2 separate regions of the Homo sapiens genome follow, and region 2 is linked to region 1. The links come from fine-mapping of genetic effects on gene expression. A gene starts in region 1. The other region holds a variant in brackets. All regions are shown on one strand. Distances are from middle to middle.

Region 1 (5,364 bases):
GGCCACACAGGCCAGTCTGTTGTGTGATGCCACATGGTGTTAGTGGCTGAGCTAGGACAGGGACAGGTGAGAGTGTCCACCCCAGCCTCAGAGCCTCTCACCCTTAGCCAAAATTGGTATTTGGCTCTTAGAACTAGCCGGGACCTTGCAGGCTGGACGGAGGCCCACGGTCTCTCTAGGGCATATCCTGAGCCCTGAGTCAGTCAGGAGAAAGTTGTCCCCAGCATGTCCCGAAGGGACACCCCCTGACTCACCCCAACCACTTCCTGCCACATCTTTCTCTGTTTTCCTTGGAAATCTCCATGCCAACCACTTGCCCCACCCAGGTTTTGACTGGGCTGGGGCTCAGGGCCAGAGAGGCTGCAGGAGCCTACCCCAGGTCATGAAAGAGAGTGTGTCACCTGCTGCCCAGACTGTTCCCTGCTCCTCTTGAGGCATCCAGGCCACCCCTGAGGCCCCTCCAGTTCCAGGGCCAGTGTCTGACGGGAGCCCTTAGAGGGGTACCTTCTCTATTTCTAGGCCCAGAGTTGAGGTCCTGAACCCCACCCTTCCACTGTTGGGACAGGACAGCGCCTGAGCCCCCACCATCATGCTAAGCGCCCTTATGTTCAGCACTGCCCCTGCTGGGCTGCTCTTAGCCAGCTTTCGTGGGATGGGTGATAAGCTCAAAGCAATGAAGTGAGCTGGCTGTCTGGGTGTGGCTGTGAGGTCACAAGACCTGAGTTCCCTCTCGAGGGTCAGGGTCCGCAGCTCCAAAGAAGCTCAACAAGTTAGCAGTGGACACGTCTTGAACCCAGGTGTCTGCCTCTCAGCCCAGGGCCGGACCCCACACTAGGCTGCTCCTCTTTCTCTCCCATTTGCAACACGCCCAGCCCAAGTATTGGGGTGACTATAAAAAATGAAGGCCAGGGAGGGAATGGGGCACGGGAGGCTGGTGTGGCCTCTGTTCCAGATGGCACAGAAGGGGCCCACCCTCCCGCCTCTGCCTCGGATGCGCATACTAGAGGGTGAAGCCTTCGCCAGCAGGTGCAGAGGCTCCGCCCTGTGAGATGGGAGGGAAGAGACGGGGCCAGAAAGCCTGGAAATCACATCCACTCCCCTACAGGGACGCTCCCCCAGCCCATCATACCCAGCCAAGCTTCAGTGTGAGCTTGACCCTACCCAGCAGAACTCCCTGAGGCCACAAGCTCTGCACCCACTGGCAACTGAGGCCTGGGGGGGCAGAGCTTGATGTGGCCTGCCTGAGCTCTGTCCCGTACATCCCCCGCGGCCACGTCTAAACTGGCTAAAGTCTAAACTCCAGCCCACGGAGCTAATCTTCAATCTTGGGCCTAGCAGAGGTTGGCTGCAGAGGAGGTTGGGTGAGGTGTCACCGTGACACAGAAGTGCTAAGCCCCCCATGGCCAGGCTGAGCCAGCTGCCCTCTGCACCAGACCTTCACCTAGCCTCTCCTGGGCTGCCAGCCGCAGGATCTGAACTTTGGCTGGGAAGCGAGAGGACAGCTGCTGTAATCACTATCTGCCATCTCTGAGGCGCCCTCAGAGATGGCCCACACCGTCCCCACACCCACATGCCCTGCCCACAGCCCCGCCAGCCTCATCTCTCTAGACGAGTCCTCCTCTCTGCTCCTTGGCTTCTCTCCCTCCCTGTAAGGGCACCCCCAGGCCTGCTCACCTGTCCCTTGGGCCCTCAGAGACATCCTCCAAGCCTTCCCCAGTCTCTCAGGCCAAATCCTCCCCTGCTGTGGCCCAAGCCCGGCCTGAGTTTGCACTTGTCTGAGGAGCTGGGAAAGGCCGTGTCTGGGACAGCAGGCAGCTGCCACCAGGGCCAATTTGCCATGCTAAGCAGCCCAGGAGACATTCTTTTCCACAGCTGCCACCCAGTCACCAGCATCTGCTTGTCATTAGTGACCCCAGTCCAGACCCCATTCAAGCCAGGAGCCATGGGCACGTGTTGCAAACTCACCCCCACACACCCTTACACAGCAGCACAAACATGCACACAGTTGACACAAGCACAGAGACTCATGCTGGCAAACACATGCACACATACACACCTTCACACACACACACGCACACGCACATGCACACACACGCCACACCTCTCAGTGCCTAGAGACCATGGAGCCCAGCGCTTGCCCCCCAGCCCATACTGTAATCCAGGAAAACTGCCTTCAAACAGCCCCAGAGAGTGTTTTCACTCCCTTATCTTTGTCTAATCTCAGGGGCAAAAGAGTGGAAGAGGGCCTTTCTCTTGATTCCTAGAGGTGGTTTATTTGGAAACTAGTGTGAATATGGGGGGCTCCCTGAGGGAGTCCTGCTCACACACTTGCAGAGCCAGCTGCAGACAGGCTGGGCATTTGGTTCAGGGTGGCTGGGGACAGCGGGCAAAGTTTCCCCAGGGTGCAGGGCTGCAGGAGGAGGGAGCTGGCGGCACAGGCAGGACTGAGAAGGGCCAAAAAGCTACAGCCAAGGGGCGAGGAACTGCTGGCCAAGCTTATTCCCCATAATAGATGCCCTGCAGGGGACATTGGCAAGACCATTATTCTCTGGATCTCAGCTTCCCACAGTGCCTGGCAGAAAACAGGCTTTGGGAGGCATGCATAGCTGAGTTCCAGCCCCAGCTCTTCCCCCCAGCTCTCTACGTGACCTCCAGCAACCTCTTGTCCTCTCCGTTCCTCAGTGTCCCCATCTGCACAATGGGCAGAGGATGGAACCAGTGCCTTTCAGCATCATTCTAGAACCCCCCCAAGCCCAGGGACACCCCACTCACGTCATTGCGGCCAAGCGAGTTCCCAGTCAGGGAGGAGGTGATGCCTGAGAGGATGGCGGTGGCGACGATGGCCCCCACGCACTGGGCGATGATGTACATGAGGGCACGGAAGATGCTGATCTGGCAGCTGAGCAGCAGCCCCAGTGTGACAGCCGGGTTGAGGTGGGCGCCGCTGATGTGGCCCACACTCTGCGCCAGCGTGGCGATGCTCAGCCCGAAGGCCAGCGACACCTTCACGTTGTCCTGGACCGCCGTCTGGTTGTTCCCCACCGGGTATTTGAAGCCCAGGGCAGAACCGATGCTGATGAAGACAAAGAGGGTCGTGGCCAGGAACTCGGCCACCACTGCCCTCCAGAAGAGCTTCTTCTTGAACTCGCTGGCCATGCTGGCAGGGGGCTTGGCCTGAGACCGCTGCCGGGTGCTCAATTCCCTCTGAGAGCTGAGCCACAGCCTGGGCTGGGCCTATTTATAGGGCCGGGGGGCGGGGGGAGCACAAAGGGAGGAAGGCCTCTCTTCGCTCCTGGCCCGCCCCACACCACACAGACCTCCTCTGGATGGATGCAGACACGGCTGTGCTGTCGGCCTGCCAACTTTTTCCTTCCTCCTCTCCCCCTCCCTCTCTCTCTCTCTCCCTCCGCCCTCAGCCCTGCCCAGCCCAAGGAGGCAGGCAGGAGGCAGCCGTTGCTCTAATAGGCTTTGGGAAATTCTTCCAAGCTGGCCCCACTCAGGGAACCAGAGAAATCCAGGTGTCTCGGCCCTGTGTGCAAAGCTCAGGGAGTTCCTGAGGGCAGAGCCAGGTGCTCCGGAGTGGGTGGGGTGGGCGGGCTGGACTCAGTGGGTGGACGTTGCCCTCCCTGGAGGCAGGTACCATGATCCTGCTGGCCTGACATCCCCATCCCGACCCAGAGAGGCACTGGCCTGGAGTCCCCGGGCCCAGGGCTCCAGAGGGGCAGTCAAGTCCTCCCGCACCGCCACTGCATGCCATGTTAGGGATGTCCCAGAGTCCCCAGTCCCCCAGAGCCAGGGCTCTGTGGATGGGGGCACGGAGGCATCAGAAGTTGCAGAGAGGTTGTCTGTGGCTGCCCTGCATGCTGCGGTTGAGGGCAGGCCCGAGCTAGGCAGAGCTGTTAGAAAGCCCCCGCCCTGGGAGCTCCCAAACTTCTCGACAGCGATTTGAACCAATGATTTGAGGGCAGGCTGGTGAAGATAGGGACAGTTTAGGACTTTCCTCTCAAGGCAGTCACACTGGCGGGTCACTGGGAAGGTGGAAGGAATGGCAGCCCCACCTGGCATTGGAAGGTGCTGGAGAGGAGGGAGGGAGGGAGCAGGAGAGAAAGGCAGAGACAGACAGATGCTGGCTGAGGGGAGGAGAAGAGACAGACAAGGAGAAAGGAAAGACAGTAGCAGGGAAATAGAGCAAAAGTGGAAGTGAAAGAGACAGATCCCCCAGCCAGAGACAGTGAGACAAGCAGGGCTGAGAGAGACAGAGAGAGCGCAAAGGGCTAGGAAAAGACAAACTGAAACAGGGGAGATAGGACTGGACCCAGAGCCAAGAAGCAGAAAGGGAGAGATAAATGAGGAGAGGCAGAGAGCGGGAGGGACCAGACGAGCCCCTGCAGAGGGAGGGGCCGAGGCCCTGCTGCAGATCCCCGTGGGCCGCCTGTGCCCCGGGCATCTCCAATCCAGAGGCCTAGCGCCAGCCAACAAACAAGAATCTGGACTCCAGGGCCAGCAAGCTGTCAGGAACCCCTGGGCCTGGCCCTCTTGCCTGCTGCATGGAACGTGCTGGAAGAACCAGGCCCAGAAGGGAGGGTCCCCCTGCGTCCCCTAGGGAAGGCCTGGGATGATCTGGGCTCTCCTCCCACCTCCTGCCTGCCCCACCACAGTCCCACTCGGGCGTGTTGGCATCTTCCCATTTATAGGTGGGAAACTGAGGCCCGGTGAGAGGACTTTTCTAAGTGTGCCTGGGGCAGGGCAAGGATGAGTGGGTCTTATGCCTCTTGTCCAGGGGCTATCCTGCAGAGAATGACACCAGCTGTTACTGGCCACCCCTCTGCCCAGCTGTGGCCTGGCTCTTGGGGTGAATTGCCAGGGACCAGCCTGGTGTGTGTTTGCTGGGGCTGCAGGTGGGGAAGATTCATTCCCCTAAGTGCCTGTACAGGACGGTGGTGGCCAGCAGGCCCTGCCTGCTCAGACAGCCCAGGTGGCCGAAGGTCATAAGTACTTTCTTAGCTGTCCAGGAGAGGAAACTGGCCCCACTGGGCTACTTCCTGGGCCCTCCTCTACATCCTTTCCTCTGAGGAGCCCTGGCTCAGCATTCCAGTCTCTGGGAGGCTCCCTCATGCCCCTGGCCCCTGGCCCCTGGCCCCATGCCCTGGCAGGGACACTGACCCACATGAGGAGCTCTCTGGTCAGTTTCAGGGGCGTCCAACCAGAGCTCTCTCTGCAGGGCTAGGATCCCCTCACCTTGAAGTTTTGGAGGGCAAACTGTTTCTCCTGCAGACCTGGCTCCTGAGGGCAGGGGTGGCACCCCTTAGACCAGGGTCCTCTGGAACATGGCCATTTCCCTTCAGGCCACAGGCTCCTGGGCAT
Region 2 (5,364 bases), 29 kb after region 1:
ACAGGCAGGCAGCTGGTGTCAGCAAAGTTCTCGCAGACATGGAACACAGACCTGGGGATGAGGGGATAGCTAATGGAGCCAGGAAGAAGGTTCCCCTGGCCCAGTGCCTATGGCGGGCCAGAGAATCAATGCCTCACTTGATACCCAACTCTCACAAGGCAGCAGGGTTGGGGGGGGGGTGGGCACTGCCCTTACCTGGTTCTCAAAGTGTGGTCCTGGGACCAGCAGCATCAGCATCACTGGAGGACTCCTTAAAAATGCAAATTATTGGGCCCTACCCTGGACCTACTGAATAAAAAGCTCAGAAACCCTTGGTGTGGGGCACGGCGCTTTGTGTTTTTTGGTTTTGGGTTTTTTGTTTGTTTGTTTTTTTGAGACGGAGTTTCCCTCTTGTTGCCCAGGCTGGCGTGCAATGGCATGATCTCAGCTCACTGCAATCTTCGCCTCCCAGGTTCAAGCGATTCTCCTGCCTCAGCCTCCCAAGTAGCTGAGATTATAGGCGTGTGCCACCATGCCCGGCTAATTTTTAATAGAGATGGGGTGTCTCCATGTTGGTTAGGCTGGTCTCAAACTCCCGACCTCAGGTGATCTGCCCGTCTCGGCCTTCCAAAGTGCTGGGATTATAGGTGGTGATCTGTGTTTTAACATATTCTCCAGGTGACTCTGATGCCCCTGAAGCTTGAAGGCCACTGCTCTGGAGCAAACTTTCCCCAAGCATGAGCCACAAATGCATATGGGCTCCTCTTAGCCCCTGTGTGCTACACAAATAGAATTATTTTCCATGCATGACTGCTCAAGGAGATGGTGGGGCTCAGCCTTGTCCAAGCTCACACAACACTAAGCAGATGTGAGGGCAGAGAAGGGCAGGGCCCTGGCCCAAATCATGCAGCCTCTCTGCTTCCCACATAACCTCACTGTCACCTGCTTGCAAGTGAACAAGGGGCAGGGGAAGGAAGTTTTGGGAGATGAAGGCAGCCAATAGAAGAGGAAGAGGAGGTTCAGGCCCGTGTCCACACACTAAGACTCTCACTCTGCATGGACTAAGCTCCATGCAGACCAAGGCCCCAGGTCGATCTCAAACAATTGTCAATTAGAGCTGAGCCCAAGAAGTCCAATCCTGGGCCCACGCTGGGAGGTGCTTGGTGAGTCATGCAGTGGAATAATTTCTGGAGAAAAAGGAGTTACTCCAGAAGAGGCAGTGGAGAGGTTTCAGGTGGTGGGCCACCCCCTGGGAGGGGTAGAGAGACACAGAGTCAGACGGAGGCCTTCAGAGAGGGTCCCAGGAGTCCAGAGGCAAGCTGCGGCTGTGTCCAGGGTGTTGGAGCCCTGCTCAACAGGCCCACCTGCAGGAAGGATGCCCTGTGGCCTCCCACGCTGTCCTGTACAGATGCCAAGGCTAGTGTCACCTCCTGTCCCCACTGCTGCCTTTCTCTCATCATTTTGAATGAGTGGCCCTTTGTACATGAAAGGAAAGCGACCTGCAGGTGCCCTTAATCCTCCCGACGAAAGAAGCACCAGCACATGACCCTGCAAGAATGCTTCATCCCTGGCTCAGGGGGCGGGCAGGTGGATGGACGAACGGATGGACGGACGGACGGACAAAGCATGTCGAGGATGTCTCGGCGCTCCTCCCATTTCCCCTTCCTGGTGTTTCCACCATGTGAACATTTCTCTTTCTCTGCAGCTCCTCTCAAGGGCTCGCTTTCCTGTGGTGGGCATCAACCCTAAGCTTGCTGTGCCCCCTGGATCTCAGGCAGTAAGCATTGCAGGGCCTCACCATTTTGCATCCCCCGTCACAACCCCAACCATTTCACAGGCAGAGAAATGGAGATTCTCTGAGATCACACCAAATCAGGAGTGGCTGAGGTCATCATCGTGAGCACAAACACCATGGAGCACTTAGTAACGTCCCAGACACTCTTCACAAGGTCCAGTGAGAAAGGTATGCATCACCCCCATTTTACAGATGACAAAGTGGGGTGCAGGAAGGTGAGGTCCAGTGGCTCACACCAAGAAGCAGCAACACCAGGGCTGGAACCCAGGCGACTTCTCTCCAGAGCCCACACTCATAAAGGTTACCAGTTCCACTGCTCCCCCAGAAGGGACCAGGATCCAGGCCTCTCCCTCCCGGGCTGCTCCTCTCATGCACGCTGAGGCCTCTGGGTCATGCCCCAAGGGCTTTGTGAAGGGCCTGCCGGGGCAAGGGGAGCACTTCTGACAGCTACCGCACCACCAGCCCAGGGGCCCACTCAGAGAA[C/T]ACAGCAAGGAGGTGAGCCCCAACTCACCCCAGTTACTGAACATTCCCCTCCCCTGGCCTGAGCCTCAGCCTCCCCTTAAATACAGAGGGGCTGGGTCAGAGGAGTTGAAGCTCCCACCTGCCTCTGAGGCCAGAGGCACACTGCTCAGTGTTCAGAGTGGCGGAGCTGCTCCTCCGGCTCCTCCGCAAGCAGAGGGTGTCGCTCCAGGCAGCACCTCCTGCCACCCCCAGGCTGGGCCAGGCCTCCCAGCTTCCTATCCTGCTCAAGCCTCCCCCACCCTCAGGTAAGCACCCCTGTCCTGCCTCCTTCGGGCCTAACGGTACTTGCCACATCTGGCTGCTGCTGCCTTGAGGGAGGAGGGGCTTCAAGAGGTGCCCATTTAGCCCCCACCCCCAACCATGAAGGCAGTCTCAGAAGCTGTCTAAAGACGCATCACCACTGCAGACCACACACTCCTGAACCTGGGCCCCAGTGACCACGAGTGGAGAAACCTGTGTCTTTCCAATCACCACACCTCTTTGAATCAGGGTGGTCCAGGAACCTATCTGCCTTCCTGCAGGCCTGACCACCCCCAACCATGGCTCCTCAAAGCTATTCAGGGTGAGGCTCAAAGCCAGAGAGGGGCTTGACTCACTTGGTTCTGATGCAGAGCTCGAGGGGTGGGACAAGGTCGTTGTCTGTGTCCTCAGAGATGGTTTGGGTGGTGTCTGGGAAGGAGGAGAGAGGCACACACATGTCACCCAGGGCCCTGCACTCACCCTGAGGTCAGCGCTGACCACTCCCGAGACCCGCCCCCTTCTAGTCCCTGTCCCCTCCTCTCCATCTCAACTGGACCCACCCTCATCCCTGACATCCATTCTCACCTGCACAACTCACTGGTCCCCACCCGTGTCCCACTTTAGCTACCACAATACTCTTTCTAAAAACACTTCTGATCTCACCACCCTGATTCCAAAACCTTCCATGGCTCGCCACTGCCTGAAGAATACATCCAAACTTGTCAGCATAGTATTCAGGGCTCTTTACCATGTGGTGTAGGCTTTACCCAACGCCCTTAATGCCACTCACTGCTCAAGGCCCAGCTCTGGCCGCCTCCTGCAGGGAGGCCCTGCTGGCATTGGCTCTCTGATCCCCCAGTCTGGATGCTGGAGTCTGCACTGCTCTCTGTCATGGGGGTTGGTGGTGGATAGGAAGGCTGGTTTCTGTGACCAGCCTGGAGGCTCCTTGGGGACAGGGTTGGGTGGGTGGGGGGGTGAGGGCCCGCACCAATGGTCAGCCGGATCTGCTCCTGCTGGTTGGCCAGGCCATCGTAGTAGTACAAGTCAAAGAGCCTCTCAGTCCTCCAGTCACGCAGGAGCCCCGGCTGCAGGCTAAAGAGGATGCTGAAGTGGCTCTCACTGCAAACCACCCAGATGGGGAACCTCGGGGTCTTCAGGAAGCAGCCAACCTGGATGAGGGAGAGGCCTGATGTGAAATGCCGTCCCCAGGGAAAGGGGTCCGGGCATTTTTCTGTCTGACTCAAGGCAGGGCTGACCTCAGAGAGGCCCTGCTGAAGATCACGTTTGTGTCTGATGCTGGGAGCCCCTCACGCTGCTCAGGCCACTGGGCTGTTTCCCAGGGCCATCCCTGCCCTGCCACCCCACCTGCTGCTGCTCGCAGGGCCTCTGCCATACAGACCTGAGACCCGGTATCACTCGCCCCCTCATCCCCCACATCTAATGGTTCCCAGTACTGCTCATTCTGCATCCAAGAGCTCCCCCACTGCCAGCCTTTCCTCCTGAGATCTACTCAGCCTCCAACCTGCACCACGGCAGTGACCTCCTAACCAATTCTTCCCACACCCCTCAAACAAATTCAGCTTGTCCACTAGCCTAGAGCTTGCTTACCGTTGGACAGCCTGCATCTCCCAAATCCCTTGTTGGAGCAGAAATAGTTTCCTCCTTCCAGTTCCCAGGGAGCACATCACTAGGTGCCCACCCACCTCAGCCGCAGCACCTCTGCCTCATGCTCGACAGATCATACCCTTAAGTTCCAGGAGCCCGGGGTAAGTAAATGTCGGGTGAATGAAATTCCTCATGGATGAAGCAGGACTTGAACTAGAACTGCACGGTAAAGACAACTAGGAATGGAGCCCTGGGGAGCCAGGAGGGAAAGGTCTGAGTGAGAAGTCTGTGGGGGTGCCAGGAATGGAGGGACAGAGAAATTCAGGGTGCAGCAGGGCACTGAGGTTGCAGCAACACTTGGATAAGGAGCATTCCAAGCAGGGGAATTTCACATGGTGGAAGTGTTTGTGGAAGAAGACACAGAGGAATAAGCACCAGGGCCCTCAGCACGTTGCTAGCATCTTGACTACAATGGGAAGAGAAGTGACAAGGGCCCCCTGTGAAGCCCCTGAATGCCTGGCCTCCATGCACTTTCCCCCAGCCCCTGACACTTCTTGGCCAGCGCCTCTCCTGACCCTGGGCCCTGGTTTATCCAGCTATGTACGTGCCACGGGCCAGGCTGATTCTGGCCTAATCCCTACCAGCCCCAGGGAGATGTTTGCATGCTCAGGTATTTACAGCTACAGCCTGTGGATTAAAGAAAGAATGGGAATTATTTTTCCAGTGGGGAGAAGGGCATACTTTTTCCAGAACCCTTTACAGGAGAGTGGGTGAGCAGCTCCCATCTTGATCTGGGATGTCTCTGACAGAGGGGCTGTGCTCTGAAGGTCCTGAACCAGGTCCCCAGTGAAATTCCTGCACATTTAAAGCTGCCTCCTCCAGAAGGTAGGGGGACAGTCTTTACAACGCACTCATCCTTTCTTACGGTTCAAGTGTCCCCTCCCCCCACACCGAAGCCTCACCCCAGCCCTGTGTGCCATTGAAGTGGACTGCAGAGCTCATTCCTTAGTGAAGTGTGGGGGAATTAGATGTCTTACAGGACGTGGCTGGACGTGCCTAAACCCCACGTAAACTTGGCTTCCATTCCATGCTTCAAAGAGGCTTTTCTGGTGAGGGCATCGCCAGGAACAGGGAACCCTGACACAGGGACCCAGCATTCATTCACGGCAGGGAGAGAGTCCCAAAGCCAACCAGGGAGCAGGCCTTTGCATAATCAGCCACCC

Evidence for each region. PIP is the estimated chance that this variant, and not a neighbour inherited with it, causes the effect. A credible set is the group of variants that fine-mapping cannot tell apart.
Region 2: its variant is the best candidate, but not a certain one, in a credible set for the expression of AQP1 in lung (TOPMed, PIP 0.79).

Annotation. Positions count from the first base shown.
Region 1 is chr7:30,909,702-30,915,065 of GRCh38, reverse strand. AQP1 (aquaporin 1 (Colton blood group)) reads right to left here and starts at 3,213. Exons shown (of 4, transcript NM_198098.4): 1 at 2,773-3,213. The coding sequence starts at 3,156.
Region 2 is chr7:30,880,522-30,885,885 of GRCh38, reverse strand. MINDY4 (MINDY lysine 48 deubiquitinase 4) reads right to left here. Exons shown (of 18, transcript NM_032222.3): 16 at 3,525-3,705; 17 at 2,893-2,965. INMT-MINDY4 (INMT-MINDY4 readthrough (NMD candidate)) reads right to left here. Exons shown (of 20, transcript NR_037598.1): 18 at 3,525-3,705; 19 at 2,893-2,965. Among named protein-coding and RNA genes, the nearest start is that of AQP1, 29 kb to the left of the region's middle. RefSeq lists an enhancer at 941-1,842. The variant C/T (reference allele first, on the strand shown) is at 2,258.